4 linked regions of the Homo sapiens genome follow. The protein of the gene in region 1 interacts with the protein of each later gene in a pairwise test. Each region holds a gene or a part of one and is shown on either strand. Other genes may lie near its edges. The genes, in order: AKAP8L, FAM222B, HEMK1 and TRIB3.

Region 1 (7,885 bases):
ATGGCTCACTGCAGCCTCAACCTCGCAGAGCTAACTTTTTTATTTTTAATTTTTATAGAGAAAGGGTCTTGCTATGTTGCCCAGGCTCATCTCAAACTCCTGGCCTCAAGCAATCTTCCTGCCTCGGCCTCCCAAAGTGTTGTGATTACAAGTGTGAGCCACCGTGCCTGATCTAAAAAAAAAAAAGAGTCTTATTTGAAGGAGTAACACAGAGTACCAAAAATTAAAAGATAACTGGAATTAGGTTAGGTTGCCTTCAATCTTTATTATCTGAGCCAAGAGTAGGGTGACAACCATCCTCAAAGATGGTCTCCATTCCTGCCTCTTAACGTTATGTAGATCCCTCCCAACTAATAGAGCTAGCCAGTGCAACCAATAAGATTTATGAAAATGACTGAGTGTGACTTCTGGGATTTTCGCCTTGCTCTTTCTGGGATCATTCAGTCTGGAGAAAACCAGCCACCATGTTGTGAGGATACTCCAGCAGCCAGCCCTAGGGAGAGATCCATGGGGCCAAGAATTATTGGCCAGCATCAGCCTGCCAGGCATGGGAGTTTAAGTCACCTTGGAGGTGGGACCTCCAGCCTCAGTCAGGCTTTCAGATGACTCTAGTCCACATAGAGATCCTAAATGTAACCTCATGATATTCCAAGCTAGAACCACCCAGTGAAATCACCTATCCATTCCAAACATAAAGAAACTGTGTGAGACAATAAATGTTTCTATGACAAGTACAGTAGCATTTCAGACCTTTGTTTGAGGGCCTGATTCTGGATATTTCTGTGCTGTTTACCACTGCTCTCCTCTTCCCCTCTCAGTGCTAGAGATGCAGCTTCCTTTCCCACGTATAAATAAGGTAACAGGGTTCAAAAGCAGGGCGAGTTAATAAAAAGATTTATCAGTCACCTTTTATGTTTAATAATGCTAACATTTGCTTCGAGGCCTCTAGGACTTACCCTTAAAGCTATTAGTTGTCTGAAATGTGAATTAAAATGCCTTTGACTTTAGTGCCCTACTTCTTAAATAAGGGGAAGACTCACATTGTAAATTACTGTGGTTTTCAGTTTATCAAGATAAAGGAAAAACTAATCATTACTTTTTTAGCTTGGCTATCTCAGTGCCCACCCAAACCCAGAACTACAGCCTACAAGACCTAGAGCTGGAATTCAGGTTTGGTCATTAGTGACCTTGTATCTCAGTTTCCTCATCTATTAAAAAAAAGAGCTCCATTACTCAGCTACCCCACAGCACCCAACCATTCATCTTCTGGTTTCTTCAAGAGTCCTGTTTTTAAAAACCATGAAACTGTCTTCCAGTTCTTGGTAAGACTTGGTGAGAATTATATTCCAATCCCAGGGATGTCAGTAACAACCCCATAGTCTTTCCTCCTGAACTAGGAAAGCTACAGAAAGGCTCTGGCAGAGCTGCCCAACTTGGGCACTACTGATGTTTGACGCCAGATACTTCTTTGCGGTAGGTGTCATTGTGTATACCGTAGCAGGGCAGCATCCCAAACCTCCATCCACTAGATACCAGCAGCACTCCCACTCCCATATGTGACAACCAAAAATGTCTCCAGACATTGCCAGATGTCATCTGGGGCAGAATCACCCCTGGATGAGAACCCACTGGGCTGGGGGATGGTTGCTAGAAAAACTGGGGTTCTTGGAAAGCTCCTGACCTGGCAGCCAGGGTAGAGGGGACTGGCACTACCTTCTTGCCTATGCCAACATAAAGTGGTCTACAAAGGAGCCCCACAGACTCACGTTGCATTCTCAGTTCTCAAAATTCCAAGTAGAATGCAGGTTACCTGGCAACCACACACGCTCAAGCCTATAATACCCTCACCAAACAGGGAGGCCTAGTGTAAGTCTCCTGGCCGAGAAGCCTCATCAGTCACTGCCAAGGCAAACCCAGGAGGCCTTGGCAATTCACCCAGTGATGATTTACAGTCGCCCAAGCATATTGCGGGGGGCGGAGAGGGGCTCTCGGATCTGTCACCCACTCTCCCTTTCAAATCCCATTGGCCTCCCACTGGCCTCCCTGGCTGATCTTCTAACAAGCCAGGCAGTTCCTGCCCGTAAGCCTTTTACAGCAAAAGCTCCCTGGGCCAGATATCTTTATTCGCTCCCTCCATTTAGGTCTCTGCTCAAATGTCACCTCTTTACAGAAGGCTCCAACCACTCCACGTAGTGGAGCGACCCCCGCACGGTACTGACCACCCTAAAATATATCCTACACTCGCTTATTTGCCTATTAAGATCCTCGCCTCTAAGCTGCTTGAGGAATTCTTGTCTGTATTCCCAATACCCAGTCTGTACCGGACACGGTTCATTTGACAGACGCAGAGGGAATTAACATGGAACCTTGTCATTCCTTGCAGTTCAGCCCCTAGGGGCCCAAGGCTCCCCGCTCAGCCCAAACCCTTCCAATATTTACTTATCCCCCTAGGGCCTGGCGCCTTTCCCAGTTCTGAAATAGACAAAAGGGGGTGGTGGGTGGGATCGGGATGGGGGTGTAGAGCTGCGGCGTTTTTGCAGAGAAACTGCGCGGGGGAGGACGCGACAATGGCGACGGCAGCCGAGCCTGCTGCCTGCTCGCAAGGACCAAGGCCTGAGAAAGGGAAACCTAAGGCGTCGAGGTCCAGGAGCGCAGGCCAGGGACGGAGGTGGTGGGGGCGGAGACCTCGTGCGCTGAGGCCCGGACCCACGGACACAGGCGACAGAAGCCAAGACATCAGGCGGCCGGGAGCCGGGACGCCGGCTGCAGACACAGAGAGCTGAGGCAACGAGGCGTGAGGGCAGCGACCCTGAGGCGACGGGCCAGCGGCGCCATTTTGTGACCGCAGGGAAGGCAGTGACGGGGCCCCAGGGGAGGTGCGGGCAAGCCTGGTGCGGCATCCGCACGTCCCTGTCCCATCCCCCACGCAGAGCCCGACCCCACCCTGCCAGGCCCACCTGTGTAGCTCATGGTGGCGGGCAACACAACATCCGACGACGCCGGCTTCTGCTGCTCTGAACATCCGACGCTGCGATAGCTGCTGCTAACCACAGGGTCCCCTCCACACACACCCGAGCCCCGCCTCCCGACCGCATTGGCTCATACCGGCCTCGGCTTCACGTCTATTGGAAGGAACCGCTGTCTATCTCTATGCCTCCTCATATCAGTGGCTGGAAGCTGCTGGCAATCTCGTGAGAGCCCCGCCTTGTCCCCGCCTTCTGTTATTCTAAGGCCTCAGTGATTGGCCTACAGAAGCCGGCAGAGAGGCGGAGTCCTATAGAATTTGAGGGGGCGGAGCTGTGCACTACGGAAAGGCCCAAGGCCCAAGCATGGTCGGGCTGGAGGAGCGCCCGTACCCTGGAGACCCGCCAGAGGGAGTCGGGTCTACGGCTCAGGGCAGGGCTGGGATGCCAACTCCGCCACCGAGGTGCTGGGTAGGGGACCTAGCTAAGTCTCTCAAATTCTCTGGCCTTCGGCTCCAAAACAAGCATAGCAAAGCCATGTTGAGAAGAGAAAATTAAAACAGCACCAAACAAGATGCTGGACACACGTTTCAACATTACGTGACAAAGTGTGTGTAAAGAAATCATTCTGGTGCCAGTGCACTGAATAAATGTGATTAATCGTAACAAAACGATAATATATTTATATGGCATATGCTTATATGTGTAATAATTCCGTTTGTATTGTGTGTCATTCGAATGCTCCTTCAAACCTGCAAAAAGCTTTTAATCCTCACTTAAAACTGAAGCTTGGAACTCATGATTTGCTCAAGGTCCTTGACAGTTACGTGTTAAAATGGGAGCTTTGCTTCTAAAACCCTCCTGATTCACTCTGGGCTCGAGAGATCCTGCAATAGTGCAGCCGGGCACCAGTCATGTCCTCAGTCTGTTTCCTGGGCATATGGAAACCCTGCCAGGGACAACTCATAATTTCTAGAGATGACAGAGCTGCACCGAAGAGTACTTAACACGTGTGTTTGTGAAAACTCATTAAGCTGCGCAATTACGACTTCTACGCTTCGTGTGTTTTAAAACTTTTTTTAAGGTATGCTGTTTCTTTTTGATATTGTTGATTTCTTTAGGTGTAATAGTGGCATTTACAACGTTGAGAGAAACATACTGAAATACTAAGAAGTTAACTGATCTTATGGCCAGGATGTGCTTCACACAATTCAGACAGGTAGAGAGAGGAGGAGGAAGCAAGGAGCTATAAGATAAATCTCTGACAGCTGAAGACATTGGTCATGGGTTGGTGATGGATAGATGAGAGTCCATTTTACTGTTTGCTCTACTTTTGTATAGTTGGAATTCTCCATGATAAACTGTTTTAATAAAACTCCCCCCACCCAAATGAGGCTTCTGCAGAACTTGCTGCCATACGGAACAAAGCCACTTCTGATGTGTTAAGTGAGCAAACTCCAAACATGAAGCAGAGATCTGACGGATAAGCACTCTGGCTTCGGGGTTCATCTCCCCATCAGCCTCAGGGATGCCTGCCTGTCTTCCAAACCAAGGCAGGGCCCCAGGACACGTCTTCTGCGCCCTGCAGGTTCGTTCCTTCATCGCACTTGCCACAGTCATCATTGTACCGATTTGATTTCGTTCACATCCAACACCCTCAGAGACCACGGCTCAAAAGCTGAGACTTTGCTGCCTGAGGTGTATTGAAGTGGCTTGAGCAGAGAAGAGCAATGCTCAGAAAGTTTTAGGAAAACATCCCCCTGCAAGAACTGGAGGTGACTCTTCCAAGGACACACATGACCCTCACTTCACTGCATGATTGGTGGGGAGGAACTTGCCATATGACTTTATAAGCTCTTGTATCATTTGACTGTTTTTTGTCACATCTAGCCTATACCACTTTTATATTTCAAAAACTGACTTACGGGCCGGGCATAGTGGCTCACGCCTGTAATCCCAGCACTTTGGGAGGCTGATCACTTGAGCTCAGGAGTTCAAGACCAGCCCGGGCAACATGGTGAAACCCCCGTCTCTACAAAAATTACAGATATAAGCCAGGGGTGGTGGTGCATGCCTGTGATCCCAGCTACCTGGATGGCTGAGGCAGGAGAATCACTTGAACCCAGGAGGCAGAGACTGCAGCGAGCCGAGGTCCCTACACTGCACTCCAGCTTGGGCAACAAAATGAGACCCTGTCTCAAAAAATAAAATAAAAAAATAAAAACTGACTTATGAAAAGTTGAAAGAGGAAGAAACACCTTTGAGTCAGCTCACAAGATGCTCTCCCTGCTTCCTAAGTCCTGGATACATCCACCCACCCACAGCACAGGATGGAGAGAAGTGGTTGCGGCCTTCTGCCACCAGGCGAGATGTGCGTCCTGACCCCACAGGAGCAGACGTGTGGGCCAAGACCACCCTTGTGGGCGTTATTGCAGCCTGTTAATCCCTCCTTCCCAGGAAGGGGTATGGTGGGAGGGCCCAGAAAGCAGGGCTGGGGGTAGAGGTGGCCCCTTCTGTCCACACGCCATGAGGTCGTTCCCACTCTCCAGCACTTGACCGTTTAGTAAAAACGATGAGCTGAAAAACCACATGCAATAAACAAGAAGGAGCAGCCAACAAAATCTCTTAAAATCTCAGAAATGTTCAATAAACATTTGCAGAGCGAGAAAATAAATAACATCGCAAAGGAGCCAGTGGCTCCTCTTTTCCCCGCATGTTCCTTGGGTCAGGGGTGCATGTGTCTCACTAGAAGTCACATGTATTAAAAGCAGGTGAGTTCCAGCTCTCTACAACCCCACTGGCCCCCACCCAAATGCTCCCAACGGGTCCCTGACACCCTCGCTGGTAGCTCCTGCCTTTGATAAGCTCCTCTAGCCTCAACTGCTTCTTGATCCTGGCTCCCTTCCCAGACAGGCTGCCCAGAACCCTGGTTCATCTGCTCACTGGAGCCGCTTTGCCAGCCAGCCAGAGACCCCCTCCCAGCCATGGCCTAAAGAGCCAACAGCTGGGAACTTGGGCTCATCCCCAGCTGCGTCTGGTCGGCTTGGCGGCCAACTGGAAAACCCAGGGCCTCCATGGCGCTCTGGACAGAGGAGGCCCCGATCCCAGCCCCGGCTGCCAGCCAATGCCAGCCTGTCCACTTGACAGAAAAACACACGCTGGCCGCCTGCCCCAGGGTGTTTCCAGAAGAGAAATTTAATCTAATTTACATACTTCTAGGTACATCGATAACCAAAATGTGGCCACTGAAAAAAGTTAAAAGGTCAATCAGCTCCTGGCTTCTAGCTGGCCCAGGATTGCAAAATAAAAAGATCCACGTTCCTTATTCTCTACACAAAACGCGTTTTTAAAAAAGTGAAAGGTCTAGGGAGCTATACATAGAAAGCAACAGTGAAAAGGGAGAGGGAGCAGGAGTGGGGGAGGAGAGTCCCACCCCCCAACCCCACCCTCCAGGGCCCCAGAGCCCCTGAGGCTCTTTGGGGGGCCTTGACATGGCAGGAGGCAGCTGTCAGCTCTGAGCTCTTCCCAGCTGGGAAGGCCCCTCTCGGGGGCAGCCAACAAGGATTTCCGTGGCATTGTGGGCTCAGTGGGGGGCTCCCAGGCCCCAGCAGGCCCCACAGAGGGAGCGTGGCTTCCCCTGAGCAAGCACCGTGGCATGATGTGGTCGTTCAACCCAGGAACTGGGGGTCCGGGGCAGGTCCCGGGTCTCACGAGGTGCGTGTTGTGTGTGTTCGCATGTACATGTGTGTGAGAGGATATTCATGGGGGAGAGAGGGAACCAGAACAGGGGTCTTTGGGGTCTTTGCAAATGGCCACGGATGGCAGACATCGCCCTGCCTGGCTGCTAGACGGGGGAGTGCTGTCCTCCCCTGTGACCAGACCGGCTGCCATCAGAGACCTGGCTGCTGCCCCTGCTGGACCAGGTGGGCATGGGCTGAAGGAAGACACCCTGTGGCCCCAGAGTCCTCGGGCTGGGGGAAGGGCAGCTAGCTGGCTCCCGGCGCCCTGGCTGTAGTGTGCCCGGCCCCCAAGGGGCGCCGGTTTGAGGTTTTGGCTTGCTCCTTTGGAAACGGAAAGAAAGAGGAAGAGGGACAAGGACACAGAGGAGGAAGAAGAGGAGACAGAGGTGGCACGAGAGGGGATCTGGAATGCTTTTGTGTTAGGGAGCCTCTGCCGCCGCTGTCTGTGCCTGCGGGGCCTGGGACTCCTCAGGTGGGGGGTCCGCTTTGGAGAAGTTCATCTCCAGGATGTGCCGCTGTAAGTGCCGCACCCACTCTTCCTGGATGGAGAGGGGGCCCTGGAATTCCACCTCACAGAACCTGCATGGGGGAACAGAGAGAGGGAGTGGCCAGTGCTGTGAGGAGAGGCGGAAGCATAGCCTTGCCAGCATCCCTGGGCACACCTGCTGCTACTCAGTGTGGACAGAGCCAGCCCAGGAGGCGGGGGAAGAGGGACCCAGAAGTCAGGCGTTTCCCATGGACAGCCACCTCCACTCACCATGGGGTCATGGCAGGGTCTCACAGAGACCCCTGCCTCTGTGCTCAGAAGTCACTGGTGCCAGGTAAGGGCTACTGGCTTCCAGGTACCCCTGCCATCTGGCAGATACATAGAATCTGAGACAGTAGAGGGCACAGAGAAGCAAATCCTACCCAACGCACCAAGCCCCCCACCTCCTCCTGTCTTCCTGGCACCTAAAAAGGCCTCACAGCACAGAGGCCTGGAGCCCAAGCTCCATGGCTCAAGACGTGGCTTTGACTCTGACTTCTGACTTGGCCTGTATGGCCTCAGGCAAGTCACCTCACGTCTCAGAGTCCCAGTTCGCTGCTCTTCAATGTACTTGTGGACTTTGGTAAGAATTAACTAAGATCTACTTTTTTCTTGAGCCAGACACTAGTTGAGTGCTTACTTACCATGTGCCAGGC
Region 2 (7,035 bases), on another chromosome or scaffold:
ACAAAAAATTAGCCGGGCATGGTGGCAGGTGCCTGTAATCCCAGCTACTCGGGAGGCTGAGGCAAAGAATTGCTTAAACCCGGGAGGCAGGGTTGCAGTGAGCCAAGATCGCACCACTGCACTCCAACCTGGGTGACAGAGTAAGACTCCGTCTCAAAAAAAAAAAAAAAAGTTTTCTCAACACTTATCACAGCCCCCACACAGGCACCCTGACTACTTATTTTCTTCTGTAATGTATTTCTGTAACTACACAGCCAACACAGATACCACAGCTTTGTAAGCGACTTACTTAAATAGCTTATACCAATAGTGTCATTAATAGAGACATAGACAATGTAGGGAATAGGAAATCTGTAGTTTGTAAAGGGTTAGAGAAACCTGTATTCAAGTACTAGCTTCATCATTTGCCCATACTGAGAGCCTGTCATTCCTCAATTATCAACAGGGATGAATTCTGCTCTCCTACTTCACAGAATTACTAAGATCGAGAGTCAATGAACATTTTCACTAAATGAGCATTTTCATTGAAAATGAAACAATGATGGTCAATAGTTACCATTCAAGGATAGCAGATGTGGCTGAGTCTGACCACAGACAACACAAAGAAAACTGACTAAGGAAGCCCCAACTGCAGGACAACCTGGCCTTCAGCCTGAGAGTTAAATGTAACAGAAAGCACTGCTGTCTATTCCAGGATGGACTGGAGGCAATTTTCTGCCTGAAATTCAGTCCTCCCAATGGAGACCTCTCTGTTCATCCTTCTGTTTTGAAGGTCAGAGGGCACAGGTGGCATAGGCAACAGGAACCTCTATCTGTAGGCAGAGAGGCACAGGCAATGTGTTCAAACACAGATTTCAGAGTCTGAGCTGAGTATGGGCCAGTCACAGGACTGTCATGTGGCACTGGCAAGTGACAAACCCTCTCTCTATACCTTATCCTTCTGACAAAGGCAAGAGAGTCTTCCATATGGAATTTTTGAGGAATGGGTGACAACATATGTGAAAATATTCAATATAGTGCCTGGCACATGGTAGCAACTTGACAAATGTTAGCTATTATTTCTATGACTTTATCCAGTCATTGGGTCAATCTGCCATTTCCAGACCCCTCCACTAGGGGGCAGATATGCACATAAAGAAGCAGTAAAAGAAGGTAATTTTGGCATTTGTCCCCAGAGCCCCAGTGTTCTGCCATGGAAGGAAATCAAAGTTGTTATCTGAAGATGGTTTAAGGACCAAGGACCTTTTATCAGCTATTCAAACAGTAAATATTTACAGAGCCACTACTATATTGTGATCCTGAGAAGGGGAAATACAGAGCAGAGGTTTAGGATTAAGAAAGAAAAAATTTCCAGTGGCGCATGCCTGTAATCTGAGCTACTCGAGAGACTAAGGCAGGAGCACTGCTTAAACCCGGGAGATGGAGGTTGCAGTGAACCGAGATTGCGCCACTGCACTCCAGTCTGGGTGACAGAGGGAGACTCCATCTCAAAAAAAAAAAAAAAAAAAAAAAGGGCCGGGCATGGTGGCTCATGCCTGTAATCCCACTACTCAGGAGACTGAGGCGGGAGAATCACTTGAACTTGGGAGGCGGAGGTTGCAGTGAGCCGAGATCGTGCCACTGCACTCCAGCCTGGGTGACAAGAGCAAAAGTCCTCCTCAAAATAATAAAATAAAATAAAGTGGGCTGGGTGTGGTGGCTCACACCTGTAATCCCAGCACTTTGAGAGGCCGAGGCAGGCGGATCACCTGAAGTCGGGAGTTCGAGACCAGCCTGACCAACATGAAGAAACCCTGTCTCTACTGAAAATACAAAATTAGCTGGGCGTGGTGGTGCATGCCTGTAATCTCAGCTACTCAAGAGGCTGAGGTAGAGAATCGCTTGAACCCAGAAGGCGGAGGTTGCGTTGAGCCGAGATCACGCCATTGCACTCCAGCCTAGCAACAAGAGCAAAACTCTATCTAAAAAAAATAATTAAAAAAAAAATAAAAATAATAAAAGTGAACACCAAGATAAAGCTGCCAATTTGCCCGTCCTCCAAATGGCTTTTCCCTTGATATCACATCTTTGGGTAAAGCTGTCAGAGTGTGTTAAGGAACCCAGAACAAAGGAAGCTTCTCTTTGTCATCTTACTGCATGCCTCTAAGTACGTTCCCTCTCCAGTTGTGTCCCCAGAAGCCCAGAAATAGGCACGATGCAGTTAGGATGCTGATTTGGATGACCAGAGAGTATAACATAACACCTTCATCACCCAATCATCACTTATTAAGATAAAGGATGGGTTGAGAAAGCTATAGCAGAGCTTGCCTTATTGTGTCAGGCAACTGTAGAAGGAGGACTACCACCTTCAGCTGTTATTACATAGAGCTGGATTCACTGGCCAAATTCCAGAACTAGCCAGGCTCTGAGTCTTACGCTCTCTCAAAGAAATGAAGTCTAAAGGCTGGACCATTTTTAACTTCTGATGATGTTCTCACATGGCAGGGGCTGGCAAACGACAGCCTGCGTGCCTGGTCCAGTTGCTGTTTTTTTGTAAAAAAGTTTCACTGGAACACAGACACCCTCATTTGTTTATTGTCTGTGGCTGCCGTTGCCCTACAATGCCAGAGTTGAGTAGATGCAACAGAGACCACATGGCCCACAAAGCTTAAATTATTGGCTATCTGGGCTTTACAGAAAGTTTGTTAACCCCTGTCATAAGGGGTTCAGTTAAGGTGCTGAAGCACCTTTCCTATCAAAGGGAAGCCTAGCCACCTCAATGATTTCCCCTTTGTGCTCTGAATGGAAGGTCTATTCCAAATTTAGGGCTGTTTTTACACCTGAAGATACTATACATGGTAATGTGCCAAGAATAGAATATTTTCCTTGCAGATCATGTATTACAGGGAGAGAAGGTAGGAAGGAGTCCGGGAAAATATGAAGTATAAAACCCCAATTCCAGAAAGTTAAGACAAGAATCTAACAGTTTTCAAAGGCTCAATCTTCTGGGAAGTGTATTAGCAGGAAAATGCCCAGAGAGACTGAGAAAGCTAGCTCTCCATCTCTTCTGAGGGCAAAAGCTCCCTGACTTCCTGTGAACTAAAGTCACACTGACTCAGAAGGCAGGTAGCAAAGCCAAAGGGAACTGTCTGTTTCCATGGTAGACTACTAAGAGAGTTCAAAACAAGAGAACAGCATAGTTTATTTCAGAGATATAGTAAGTAATCTGGACTGTGAGTTTTCATTCAATTCCCTATGAAGGTTCAAACTGAAACACCTTTTTTAAGGGTGATATATATATATATATTTCCCCTGAAGCTCTTTATAGTTTTGTTGTTCAACAGAAAGCTATCAGCAACAATTAAAATTGAGATACAATGGGGAATTACAGAATTTAAGCAGACCCCTAATGGCTGGACACAGTGGCTCACACCTGTAATCCCAGCACTTTGGGAGGCCAAGTTAGGGGCATCACCTGAGATCAGGAGTTTGAGACCAGCCTGGCCAACATGGTGAAACCCTATCTCTACTAAAAATAGAAAATTAGCCAGGCATGGTGGTGGGCACCTGTAATCCCAGCTACTCGGGAGGCTGAAGCAAGAGAATTGCTTAACCCGGGAGGGAGAGGTTGCAGTGAGCCAATCAAGATCGCGTCATTGCACTCCAGCCTGGGTGACAAGAGCAAGACTTCGTCTTAAAAAAAAAAAAAAAAGAAAGGTGTCAAAATTCAAGGTCAGTGTACCCCAGATGTGCTTCAAGGACGGCCCAAATGTAGAGACAAAAACAAAGAATCACACATGCTCCATAGGATCCAGATTACTTACATTTCTGAAGTCCAGTGTTCATCTGCGTGTGAGAAAGAAGCTGAAAGGACAGGTCACCTGGCCCTGGTAGACAGGCTAGCATGGCAGATTGGCATCAACACAACATGGGGCAGTGGCTCACACTGTAATGAACAAAAACAAGGTCATGAAACACAAGGCAACTCATTCGAAGAAGAGAGTAGGAACACTGGATATGACTGGCGTGAGGCCCAAGTTTAGACACATAAAGCAATTTAATTAGCAGTGTGTTGGTTGAAAGTATACTTACATCTTTATCTGTGACGACAATTTGCTGTCAAATATCACTATGGTTAAAATGATTTTTCAGTTACCACAGATGTATGGATGGGAGAAATAAAACTGGAAAGCACCTATTCATACAACTGGAAAGTACAGGTGCATTTATAATGTCTCAGTATTCCTGAGGAGAGTGGGCCCTCATAGGGCCTGGCTCAGCCAGCCCATTTATAGGCCTGGTTGGAGACCAGCCAGACATTTTCAGAAGCAGCACATTATATGATTGCAAAGGTACCCAATGTCTGACTTGTGAGCCAGTAATATGAACCCACTTTTATTTTATTTTTTTTGAGACGGAGTTTCACTCTTGTTGCCCAGGCTGGAGTGCCATGGTGCGATCTTGGCTCACTGCAACCTCTGCCTCCCAGGTTCAAGCGATTCTCCTGCTTCAGCCTCCCGAGTAGCTGGGATTAAAGGCACCCGCCACCACGCCTGGCTAATTTCTTTGTATTTTTAGTAGAGACGGGGTTTCACCATGTTGGCCAGGCTGGTCTCGAACTCCTGACCTCAGTTGATCCGCCCACCTCGGCCTCCCAAAGTGCCGGGATTACAGGTGTGAGCCACTGCACCCGGCCATGAACTTACATTTATTTACTTATTTATTTATTTATTTAAGACAGAGTTCTGCTGTCACCTAGGCTGGAGTGCAGTGGTACAATTTTGGCTCACTGCAACCCTTGACTCCTGAGTTCAAGCGATTCTCGTCCCTCAGCCTCTCTAGCAGCTGGGATTACAGGCGCATGCCGCCATGCCCAGCCAATTTTTGTACTTTTAGTAGAGATGGGGTTTCACCATGTTGGTCAGGCTGGTCTCAAACTCCTGACCTCAGGTGGTCCGCCCGCCTCAGCTTCCCAAAGTGCTGTGATTACAGTCATGAGCCACCGCACCCGGCCGAACTCACTTTTAAATGGAAGGAGGAAAGCATCCTAGGAGGCACAATTAACCACTGTTAAAGCAAATTCTGTTTGCAAATTTCTGGGGCTTCACCCTTCCTGACATGCAATTAGACCTCCTGAACTACCTCTCCCACCCCCTCAAAAGAAATGCATTGCTCCCAGACTAAAGCAAGGAGAAAGGCTGCCAGCAGCTCTCTTCGTGCAGGCAATCCTGACATGTCAAGACCGCACGAGTTTCATTAGTGATGTTTACCAACCAGACATACACAGCCCAAGCAAGCAGACATTGATGGGGCCTTCTGTAGCGAAAGAAGCCCTGTCAACAATGCAAGCTCCTTAGGTAACAGAAATACGATTTTCCTAAATAAGTACACGAACTTCTTTTCCCATATTTCAGAAACCAAGGTGGCAAATTATGGCTTTAGATCACAGCAAAAAAGGAGTGGGGGAAAAGCTCAAAAGTTAAAGACGACAAAAATCTCCTTATTTTCTTGAGAGGGCTCTCTCAGGTATATTAAACTACCTTGTCATGATGAGTATCAGAGGGCTCCTGCTTCCAAGACCAGGTAGCTGAAAAGACACTTTGTAAAAGAGGCTGCTCAAACTGTGTCTAAGATAGCAACTGCAGAAAGAACTGAAGATTGAATGCCTTAATGAGAACAGAGCTGTCCAAGAGTTCTGGCACAGCGTCAGTCTTTTTAAGATCTCTGGTGGGTGGGAAAACAGAATGAACACAGTGAGCCAACTTCAGTGCCTCAAGAAAAAAAAAAAGTCTTGGCCGGGCACGGTGGCTCACACCTGTAATCCCAGCACTTTGGGAGGCCGAGGCGGGCAGATTACCTGAGGTCAGGAGTTCGAGAACAGCGTGGCCAACGTGGTGAAACCCTGTCTCTACTAAAAATACAAAATTAGCTGGGCATGGTGGCGCATGCCTGTAGTCCCAGCTACTCAGGAGGCTGAGGCAGGAGAACTGCTTGAACCCAGAAGGCAGAGGTTGCAGTGAGCAGAGGCTGCGCCACTGCACTCCAGCCCGGGCCACAAGAGTAAAACTCTGTCTCAAAAAAAAAAAAAAAAAAAAAAAAGAGAGACTTCTGTTGGGGTCTGGATGCTGATCTTTACATAATAACTTCTCCCTTAAGACCCTAACACAGCTGAAGGCAAACTCCAAGGAAAGGAAGAGAATTAACAAGTACTGGGAGCTAAAACTGTGAAATGGGCTGTATGAGGGGCTTTAGTGATGTTTTCTTAATTGAGTCTCTCAAGCCTTGGAAACAGGTAACAAACTTCACCTGTCATCTCATCATCTCTAGATGGGATTACTATTAGCCTTCTAAATGGTCTGTTCCACGCTTACCCTTTATCACCCAATCTATTCTCTATTCAGCAATGTTAGTTCTTTTTTTTTTTTTTTTTTTTTTTGAGATGGAGTCTTGCTCTGTTCCCCAGCCTGGAGTGCAGTGGTGCGATCTCGGTTCACTGCAACCTCCGCTCCCGGGTTCACGCCATTCTCCTGCCTCAGCCTCCCGAGTAGCTGGGACTACAGGCGCCTGCCACCATGCCCGGATAATTTTTTTTTGTATTTTTAGTAGAGATGGGGTTTCACAGTGTTAGCCAGGATGGTCTCAATCTCCTGACCTCATGATCCGCCCGCCTCGGCCTCCCAAAGTGCTGGGATTACAGGCGTAAGCCACCGTGCCTGGCCCAAACGGGGTTTCACCCCATGTTGGCCAGGATGGTCTCGATCTCTTGACCTCGTGTTCCGCCCGCCTTGGCCTCCCAAAGTGCTGGGATTACAGACGTGAGCCACCGCGCCCGGCCAATTCTGTTAACTGAAAGTCAGAGCAGCTTAAATATCTCTAATGACTTTCCATCTAAGAATAAAATACAAAATCCTAACATGGACCCCAAGGCCCTCCATGATCTATTACTACTGGTTCTCTGACCTCACCTTCTGACCTACCCTGCCCTCTCTTGCTGACTTACTTCCAGCCACCATGGTCTCACCATGGTTTCCCTGCAGTTCCTTCAACGAGCCAAAC
Region 3 (3,180 bases), on another chromosome or scaffold:
TGGAAGGTTCACTTTCCTGCTTATCTAGTCTCAGATGTTACAGTTTTTCTTGTTATGTATTATACAGAGAGATGGCCTAACTGGTTCTTGCTGCTGCATGGGCAAGCCATTAATTTACAGGGGTTTATCTTATAACTGGACACCTTTTTGTTTTCTCTTACAAGATGTGCTTGTTGTTGCTTCTCTTGGATTTTCTACATTGACATTTTACCACTGAAAATAATGACAATGACAAATTTGTCTTTTCCTTTCTTTCTTTTTTTTTTTTTTGAGACAAAGTGCCACTCTGTTGCCCAGACTGGAGTGCAGTGGCGCGATCTCCCAGGTTCAAGCGATTCTCTTGGCTCAGCCTCCCGAGTAGCTGGGATTACAGGCGTCCACCACCATGCCAGGCTAATTTTTTTTTTGTATTTTCAGTAGAGACGGGGTTTTGCCATGTTGGCCAGGCTGGTCTCGAACTCCTGACCTCAAGTGATCTGCCACCTCGGCCTCCCAAAATGCTGGGATTACAGGCCTGAGCCACCACACCCGGCCTGTCTTTTCCTTTTTAATACTTATGGCTCTTATTTATTTTCCTTGTTTAATAGCTTGGCTGAGACCTTCAATACAATATTGAAAAACTGTAACGACTAGAGCATTTGTATATTGTTTCTCACTTGGGGTGCCTCTGGTCCCTCCCTGTCAAGTGCACTTGCTATTGATTTTGGATAGATGGCCCTTTTCTACTTAAAAATGGTTCAGTCTAGTTCTGGCTGACTCTGATTTTTTGTTTATTTTAGAGGCTTTTTTTTTCATCTTTCATTCATGCAACAGACCTTCAGTGAGCTGATTGCCAGGACTACACTGTCATACTGTGGTACCAAAGAAAAATTGACACGGTCCCTACTCATAAGGAGTTCATGGCCTGGTGGAGGATACAGGCAGGCAAATAGATCCTTATCCTTAGGCCATGGGGCATGCATTCAGTCACCATCTGCTGGCACTGTGCCAGGCACAAGGAATGGGCACTATTCAGGCAGGCCCCCATCACAGTCTGGTGGGGTCCAAGCAGTTCACATCCCCTCTCACTCAAGTTCCCACAGAGTAGTTGCAATGGTGAGCTGAGGTTTTCTCTGCTGCAGAGGCCAGGTGGGTAAGTAACCAAAAGTGCCTGAGAGCTAATCCCCTGGAGCAGCCTGAAACCAAGGAAGACAGAGAGTTGGTAGACACATGCCCAGCTCCCTCACCCCTTGGGTGGGACAACCGTGGCTTGTGTTTTCTGCCAGCTCCCAACTGAAGACTGAGCCTCAGTTGCCTACAGAAGGAACCCACTCATAAACCCACCTACCTCCTTTGGCTTCCTTTCCTTCCCTGTCTCACCCCCTCTCCCATTTTATATCAATAAGTGTGAAGGCTGAGATTTTATCCGACTTTCTTTTTTTTTTTTTGAGACAGAGTCTCATTCTGTTGCCAGGCTGGAGTGCAGTGGCGTGATCTTGGCTTACTGCAACCTCTGCCTCCCAGGTTCAAACGATTCTCCTGCCTCAGGCTCCCGAGTACTGGGACTACAGGTGCGCACCACCACACCCAGCTATTTTGTATTTTTAGTAGAAACAGGGTTTCACCATGTTGGCCAGGATGGTCTCAATCTCTTGACCTCATGGTCTGCCCACCTCGGCCTCCCAAAGTGCTGGGATTACAGGAGTGAGCCACCGCGCCCGGCTTATCCGACTTTGAAGCAAACAAGTTAGTCTATCATAGTCTATCATATTCTCAAGGATCATGGCAGAAGGCACAGAACTCTGGGTTCAGAAACAGACAACAGATTATTGTTTACAGTAACGGCAGTAGACAGAGTAAAAGCATTTTCTTGCACCACTTCCCTGAACCGCAGTTCCTACAGAGTGATGTGATGATGGCCCGGTGATGCCTGCATATGCATTGGGTTGCACTACGGTGGAGAAACTGCATGCTGAATTTAGGGGACCCACGTCTTTTATAATAAGCTGCAAGCAAACCTGCCCAGGTGGGAGATGTTATCTTTAGTATACGGGACAATAAAATCTGCCTTTTGCTCTGGAGGGAGATACTACCTCTATCTTCTAAGGTTACTCACTATAATAATCACCCTTGTAAAGATTATTTAGAACAAGGGCAACCAGTGCCTCTACTGGCAAGTGTGCAGAAATAGGAGAGAACCATGGGGAATTGTCTCTCAATACCTTACTGGTGCTTCTTGGCATTACTTCCCAAATAATCTATTTGCATTTGGATGCTTGTCTCAGAGTGGTTTCTGCAGGAAAAAACCCAAGATAGAGAGACAACACTATATAGGCATCGATGTATTTCTGGGGTGACTCTCTTTCCTCCAGACCTCTCCTGCAAACAACGCAGGGGAGCCACGCAAAGGAAGAGGTTTCCACACCTGGGATTGATACTGCTGGGACTCCAGGGCAGGTGCTCTAAAGGACTCTTAGAATTTCATTTTTAATGTTTAATATTTGGTCCATCTAGAATTTATGGTGGAAGGTGTGAGGTAGACGTTGCACTTTTTTTTCCTTCCAAATTGCTCCAATATCACTTACTGGAAATTGTGCTTTGTCTGTTACCACTCTCTTCTAATCTGCCTGTGGCCTGTTCCTTAGAGTGTATCACAAACATACAAGTGATCAATTTCCAATAAATTGATTAAAGAATTCATGTGCATTCCCATTTTGTCAAACCACTGATTTGACACTCAGTGCTGATGCAGTGTGAGACAAACCCAAACACCCACTGTCATGATAGCACCGTTCAGGTTCTAGGGCAATGCATGGAGGTTGTGCTTTTGCTAACTGCAGAGCAAACACTACTTCAGCCTTCACAGAGAATTTAACTGTGAATAGTGAAGATTTCTTTTCTTCTCTCTGTTTCTTTTTGAGAAGAGTTTTGCTCTGTCACCCAGGCTGGAGTGTAGTGGCACAATCATGGCTCACTGCAGCCTCGAAATCCTGGGCTTAAGTGATCCTTTGGCCTCAGCCTCCCAAGTAGCTGAACTACAGACATGCACTGCCATGTGTGGCTAATTTTTAAAATATTTTTTGTAGAGAAAGGGTCTCACTATGTTGCCCAGATTGGTCTCAAACTCATGGACTCAAGCGATCCTCCCACTTTGGCCTCCCAAAGTGCTGGGATTACAAGTGTGAGCCACCACACTCTGCT
Region 4 (7,035 bases), on another chromosome or scaffold:
TCCTCCCGCCTCAGCCTTCCAAAGGGCTGGGATTACAGGTGTGAGCCACTGCACCCGGCCTTTTGTCTGTGCTCTTAACTGCTACGCTATATGGCCTCAAACATCGGATAACTGAAAAGTAACAGGTCACCCAAACAGAAAAATAACCCACAAAGCAGGAGGAATCCGGAAGGGCGGATGATGCAGAAGGCACCTGATGCTCATCACCGTCACAGCTCCCGTCCTCTTTGCCCACCCACGCTTTCATTCATTCAGTATGCTGGCCCTGGGCCTGCACGGGCCAGCCACATGTCCAGCTAGACTGACAGCCATGGGCTCTGCTCTCCGGTGCCCACTGGGAGGCCATGCAAACATGCCCAGAAACCAAATATTGACAAATGCTGATAAGCATTGCAAAGGAACCAAGAAAGATGCTGGAATAAGGGTTTTCCTGTTTGTTTTTTGTTTTTTTGAGACGGAGTTTTGCTCTTGTTGCCCAGGCTGGAGTGCAGTGGTGTGATCTCGGCTCACTGCAACCTCCACCTCCCAGGTTCAAGAGATTCTCCTGCCTCAGCCTCTCGAGTAGCTGGGATTACAGGCCCCTGCCACCATGCCCGGCTAATTTTTTGTATTTTTAATAGAAACAAGGTTTCACCATGTTGGCCAGGATAGTCTCGAACTCCTGACTTCAGGTGATCTGCCTACCTCGGCCTCCCAAAGTGCTGGGATTACAGGTGTGAGCCACCGCGCCCGGCCACCTGACACGTATTTTACTTATTCGCTTGTTTAGTGTCTGTATCTCCCACTAGAACGTCAGCTTGATGAGAACAGAACTTTGTTTTTTAACCACAGCATGGTACATGGCAAATACGGGTGCTCAATGAAGTTGTGTTGAATTAATGAATAAGTTGATCATTTACAAAGACAAGATTTTGATCTTTCTACACACTGACCAGAAAAGCTGAGGAAGTGTGGAAATGACCATTCAGCACCCATGGTGCACATTGGCATAGGGGTGAGTATGTTCCAGTGGATTTTCCCAAATGTTTCTTGAGAATCAGGGCCCTGTGAACGCATGGCGCTTCTCTCCTGAGCCTGCTTGGGTTATTCCTCTTATCATGGACTCACCTCCCCAGCGGGAGTGGAAAAGAGCCTGTGATGCTGCAGGAAGGGGACCCAGAGTTCTGGGCTCCTTAGGGCACCTGGTAAGGGCGCTGGAGATCTGTGCACAAGAGGCCAGGTGAAGCTAGGGGCTGGACCCTGTCTGGATCTGCCCCGCTGTTCACTGCATCTCCGTCAACAGAGCAAAGCTCTGCTGCTGCCCCAGGAGGAGGCTTAAGTCCTTCTGCTTCTCTGTGCATTCCCAAGGGACCCAGGCCCCCGCTACTCTCCCTTGGGTTTCCAGGTCCCCCTTATCTTCCTTATGCTTGCCTGCCAGGGCAGCCTGCCCTGATTGTGTGAAACGCTTATCCTAGCACGGGCACAGGACTCTCTGGGCTCAGCCTCCTGGGCCCAATCCCAGCTCTGATACCACCTGGCTCTGTCATGTGGCAAGTAACCATGGCTTTCTGAGTCTCAGTGTCCTCTATCTATAAAAGGGGCACAATGATAGAAACCACCTCATTGGTTGTGTCAAGATTAAAAGAGATTGTGCACACTAAGCAATCATCATAGTACCTGGTGCACAGTGAATACCTATTGTTACACTTTTTATTCTCATCTCTGTCTTCTTGGACTGTCACTTGTCAGTGTCCTGCATGGGCTGACCCTCAGGGGCCTTGACCCTGTCCATTTCCTGGTTTCTGCCAGGAATCCTCAGACTTTTCTACCCCTTAGTTTACCCCAGGAGCCAGGCCCAGTGCTATGTGACTTCACGCATGGCCCTTCTCCTGTCTTCATCTCAGTCTTCCTATCTGTAAAATGGCCCCAGGTTAGGCTCGATCACCTCCGAGGTCCCAGGAGTTTTGATGTCTACCATGCCCTACCCTTCTCTTGTGCAAACATCTTCAGTAGCTCCGCACAGCCCAGTGGAGGCCCCTTGTTAACACCTTCATGACCAGCTGCTGCCAACCTTCATCTCCTGCCCCTTTCTGCACATCCTCTCCACTCTGGCCACAGAGAAGTCCTTTTCATTCTCTAAAGTGCTATCCCCTCACTTTTCTAGGCCTTTGAACAGCTGTTCCCCCTGCCTGCAACTCCCATCTCCCACTTCTACCTGGCTAACTTCTGCTCGGCCTTTTCTGCGCCCATGATCCCTAAGTTCTACCCCTGCAGCATTTATCACACTGTAGGGCCTAAGCTGTGAACTCCCCCAGGACTGGGACGACCTCTGGTTTACCTCTCTAGTATCAGTCCAGCAGGGGCTCCCTGGATGCTTCCCCACTAAACAAACACAAGAATGAATGAACATAAGGACCCCTCTGCACCCTGGCAATCCTTTGGAGGCCTCCTTCCCAGGCCTCCTGTGGTGCTGGGGGACAGCCGCCCATGGGCACGTACCTTGCAGGTATACTCAGTGCCTGTAGGGCAGTGCAGGGCCTGGTAGGCCCGCCCGCCCTCCTCGGGCTCCAGGAGGACATAGGGCCCAAGACGGGAGGCAGTGGCCACAGCAGTTGCACGATCTGGAGCAGTAGGTGGGCTCAGGGGCAACAGGCAGGGGGGCAGTCTGGGCTGGGGCCCACTTCGAGCTCGTTTCTGGACGGGACGCTCGGTATCTAAGTTGTCATCCAACTCCAACCGCTTCTTCCTGGACAGGGAACCCGCAGGAGCAGCCAGAGGGGTGGCTCGCATCTGGTAAAAAGGAGAGAAAAGCACTAAAGTGAGACTGCTTGGTGGCCCCTCCTTTCCCCTGCTGGTGGGAGGATACGTGGCACAACATTTATAGGGGGTGATCTGGCAGTGTGTGTTAAAATGACAAAGTCACATATCCTTAACTGGGTGCCCCACTTCTGGGAATTTATCTTCCAGTTAAACTTCTCACAAAAAAATTAAATATAGTAAAGGCTGTTCATCAGAGCCTTGTGTCCAATAGCAAAAGCAGGAAATATCCCAAATGTCAGGCAGTAGAAAGCTAGTGAAAACATCATGGTATAGCCATACAGCAGAATACTACACAGCCCTGAAAAAGGACAAGGAAGCTCTCTATATACTGATGCGTACTGATCTCCAAGATGTATTAAGAGAAGAAAGACAAACACAGAATTACGTGTTATAGAATGCTTTTATGGTGGGTTTTTTTTTTTTTTTCCCCAAGAGATGTTGCCCACGCTGGTCTCAAACTCGTGGCCTCAAGTGAACCTCCCACCTCAGCTTCCTAAGTAGCTGGGACTCTAGTAGTGAACCACCACACCTGGCTATACTTTTATGTTAAAAAGAATATATATAAATATGTTATATATATGTATGTATTTGTTTGAATATCTATCATCTCTCTCTCTGAAAGGATGCACAAGATTAGGAGGAGACTCTTACTATTACAGTTCACTTGCAGCCTCGACCTCAGGGTTCAGGTGATTCTTCCACCTCAGCCTCCCAAGTAGCTGGGACTACAGGTGTGCACTATGATGCCTGACTAATTTTTTTTTATTCTTTGTAGAGATGGGGGTCTCCCTACATTGCCTAGGCTGGTCTCACCTGAGCTCAAGCAATCCTCCTGCCTCAGCCTCCCAAAGTGTTAGGATTACAGATGTGAGTCACCATGTTTGGCCGACTTTTATAGTTTTGAATTTGAGCCATGTAAATGTATTTCCTGGCCAGGCGTGGTGGCTCACGCCTGTAATCCCAGCACTTTGGGAGGCCAAGGTGGGCGAATCATGAGGCTGGGAGTTCAAGACCAGCCTGGCCAACATGGTGAAACCCTGTCTCTACTAAAAAATACAAAAATTAGGCCAGGCGCAGTGGCTTATGCCTGTAATCCCAGGTAGCAGCACGTGACCAAGGCAATGCCAAAGTGCAGCCCACGGCAGCACTTTGGGAGGCCAAGGTGGTGGATCATGAGGTCAGGAGTTTGAGACCAGCCTGGCCAACATGGTGAAACCCCATCTCTACTAAAAATAGAAAAATTAGCCAGGCGTGGTGGCGTGGGCCTGTAATCCCAGCTACTTGGGAGGCTGAGACAGGAGAATCACTTGAACCCGGGAGGTGGAGGTTGCAGTGAGCTGAGATCACACCACTGCACTTCAGCCTGGCCAACAGAACAAGACTCCGTCACGGGAGAAAAAAAAAATTAGCCGGGCGTGGTGGTGCATACCTGTAATCCCAGCTACTGGGAAGGCTGAGGCAGGAGAATCGCTTGAACCCAGGAGGCAGAGGTTGTAATGAGCCGAGATTGTGCCACTACACTCCAGCCTGGGTGACAGAGCAAGACTCTGTCTCAAAAAAAAGTATTTTGTAATCAGAAATGTACATTTAAGGAAATAAATACCTGCTTAAAAACACAGCTTGTTTCTAAAAATTATAGTTAAGAAAATCAACTAATCTCATAATCCATGGCTCTCGTACATTCACAGATGAGAGATATGATCTTGTTCATTCACTTAACACTGGGTGCTAGGAAGAGAAGTAGGTTAGACAGCAGTCTTGCCGTCAGGATCTTCCAGTCAATTTGGAGGGCAGATGAGTAATAAAATCACGTCCAAGGCTAGGTGCAGTGGCCCACACCTGTAATCCTAGCACTTTGGAAGGCCATGGTGGGAAGACTGCTTGAACCCAAAAGTTCAAGACCAGCTTGGGCAACATAGTGAGACCCTGTCTCTACAAAAAAAAATTTTTTTTTAATTAGCTGGGTGTGGTGGTGGATGCCTGTAGTCCCAGCTACTTGGGAGGCTGAGGTGGGAAGATTGCTTGAGCCTGGGAGGTTGAGGCTTCAGTGAGCCATGTTTGTGCCACTGCACTCCAGCCTGGTGACAGAGTAAAGACTCTCTCAAAAAAAAAAAAAAAAATCACATACAGTGTGATCAGCCCTACTATACAGAGAAGCATGGGCCTCTAGGAACCCAGAGAGGCCTCTCTCCTGGGCTGGTGGGTCAAGAGAGGTCTTCCTAGAAGAGGTGGTGTCTACACTGAGACCTGAAAGTGAGGCAGAGTTAGCCAGGTGACACGGAGAGTCATACTGCGGTTCAGTGGTTCTCAAACTTGAGCAAGCATTGAGATCATCTGGAGGCCTGTTTCAACATACATTGCTGGGCCCTACTCCCAAAGTAGCTCATTCAGAAGGTCTGAATCTGCATTTCTATCCAGTTCCCAGGTGAAGTTGATGCCGCTGTCCAGTAACCCCTGTTCTGGGGTGAGGGAAGAGGCAAAAGAACATGCTGCATGTTCCCCAAGAACACGGTGGAGAATGAGCGTGACTGCAAAAAAAAGTGAAAAGTTAAAAAAAAAAAAAAAATAGGCCGGGCGTGGTGGCTCACACCTGTAATCCCAGCACTTTGGGAGGCCGAGGCAGGCAGGTCACCTGAGGTCAGGAGTTTGAGACCAGCCTGACCAACATGGTGAAACCCCGTCTCTACTAAAACTACAAAAATTAGCCGGGCGTGGTGGCACACGCCTGTAATCCCAGCTACTCAGGAGTCTGAGGCAGGAGAGTTGCTTGAACCCAGGAGGCAAAGGTTGCGGTGAGCTGAGATAGTGTCATTGCACTCCGGCCTGGGCGACAAGAGTGAAACTCCGTCTCAAAAATAAATAAATAAATAAAAATAAGGTGAGGTTAGTAGAGGCCCTATTGTGAAGGGCTCTACGAGCATCATATGGCAGAGGTGGTTAGTGGTCCCCAGTTTCAGGTCTCCCCTCCTTACATAGGATTAGAACCTGAGATTTTCAGCTGAGCACAAGGACACCTAGAATAAACTGCATTTCCTGTCTCCCTTGTATCCTTGTATCAGCATATGGCTAGTAGGACACAAGTGGAAGTGTTGTGTACAATGCCCAGGACAGTGTTCTTAAAGGGAGGGCCCAACTTCCTCATTTCCTCCTTTCCTGTATGCTGGAATGTGGACCTAACTGCTGGAGCTCCAGCATCTACCTTGGCTTCAGAAGTACCACATACAGTAGAGCAAGAGAGGAGCCTAGGTCCCTGACACATGGAGTTGTCAGGCCAGACCTCCAGGTTTTTTACACAGGAGAGAAATAAACATCTATTGAAGGCTGGGCGCAGTGGCTCATGCCTGTAATCCCAGCACTTTGGGAGGCCGAGGCAGGCAGATCACAAGGTCAGGAGATCGAGACCATCTTGGCCAACATGGTGAAACCCCATCTCTACTAAACATACAAAAATTAGGTGGGCATGGTGGTGCATGCCTGTAGTCCCAGCTACTCGGGAGGCTGAGGCAGGAGAATCACTTGAGCCTGGGAGGCAGAGGTTGTAGTGAGCTGAGATCTCGCCACTGCACTCCAGCCTGGGGACAGAGCAAGACTCTGTCTCAAAAAAAGAGAAAAAGAAGAAAAAAACGTCTATTTCATTTTAGCTATTAAGTGGCTGTTTCTATATTACAGCTGAGCCTAATCCTAATTAACACACAATAGGATTTGGAATTATCCAAAGGCAGTGGGGAGCCACTGAAGGATTTCAGCAGGGGAACATCATGCTTTTAGGGTGGATTTGAAAGTACAAGACGGGGCAGTGAGACTAGCTAGGAGGCCCACACAAGCACGAGTCCAGGCAGGAGAAGGTGACCTGGACTAGGGGGTGCTAGATGGAGACGCGAAGTTAAGGGCTCATAGGAGGAAGATCAAGAGGACTCAGTGGCAGACTGGATGGACTGGATGGATTGGATGTGAGGGGTGAAGGAGAGGGTGGAATCGAGGTGAGGTCCAGCCTTTGGCTCCTGCAATGAGGAGGGATGATGGCTTCATGTCCTGAGCTGGGGGAGAAGCCTGTATTTTGGGGACTGTGGAAGAAAACTGTTAAGTATTTCAGACCCTTATGTCTTGGCAGTGTCATGAAAAGTGGGTTTATACTGTGGAATAGTGGCAGTGCAGCCACTAACAATGAAGACAGTGCTAGTGGGAGGATAAAAGGTACCACCTCTGAGGAGTGCATTTTGACAATATCAAAATGAA

The links.
Region 2: the proteins of AKAP8L (region 1) and FAM222B interact in binary tests that used the Homo sapiens proteins (3 or more experiments, as listed by UniProt).
Region 3: the proteins of AKAP8L (region 1) and HEMK1 interact in binary tests that used the Homo sapiens proteins (3 or more experiments, as listed by UniProt).
Region 4: the proteins of AKAP8L (region 1) and TRIB3 interact in binary tests that used the Homo sapiens proteins (3 or more experiments, as listed by UniProt).

The regions. Positions count from the first base shown.
Region 1 is NC_000019.10:15,415,954-15,423,838, forward strand, and holds the start of AKAP8L (A-kinase anchor protein 8-like), read right to left. Parts: upstream 3,036-7,885; 5' UTR 2,971-3,035; coding exon 2,958-2,970; intron 1-2,957. Other genes in the region: protein Wiz, read right to left, coding at 7,123-7,282. UniProt on the Homo sapiens protein: Could play a role in constitutive transport element (CTE)-mediated gene expression by association with DHX9. Increases CTE-dependent nuclear unspliced mRNA export.
Region 2 is NC_000017.11:28,762,783-28,769,817, forward strand, and holds part of FAM222B (protein FAM222B), read right to left. Parts: intron 3,926-7,035; 5' UTR 3,886-3,925; coding exon 3,804-3,885; intron 1-3,803.
Region 3 is NC_000003.12:50,593,492-50,596,671, forward strand, and holds the end of HEMK1 (MTRF1L release factor glutamine methyltransferase), read left to right. Parts: 3' UTR 1-2,675; downstream 2,676-3,180. UniProt on the Homo sapiens protein: N5-glutamine methyltransferase responsible for the methylation of the glutamine residue in the universally conserved GGQ motif of the mitochondrial translation release factors MTRF1, MTRF1L, MRPL58/ICT1 and MTRFR.
Region 4 is NC_000020.11:383,745-390,779, reverse strand, and holds part of TRIB3 (tribbles homolog 3), read right to left. Parts: intron 2,770-7,035; coding exon 2,479-2,769; intron 1-2,478. UniProt on the Homo sapiens protein: Inactive protein kinase which acts as a regulator of the integrated stress response (ISR), a process for adaptation to various stress. Inhibits the transcriptional activity of DDIT3/CHOP and is involved in DDIT3/CHOP-dependent cell death during ER stress.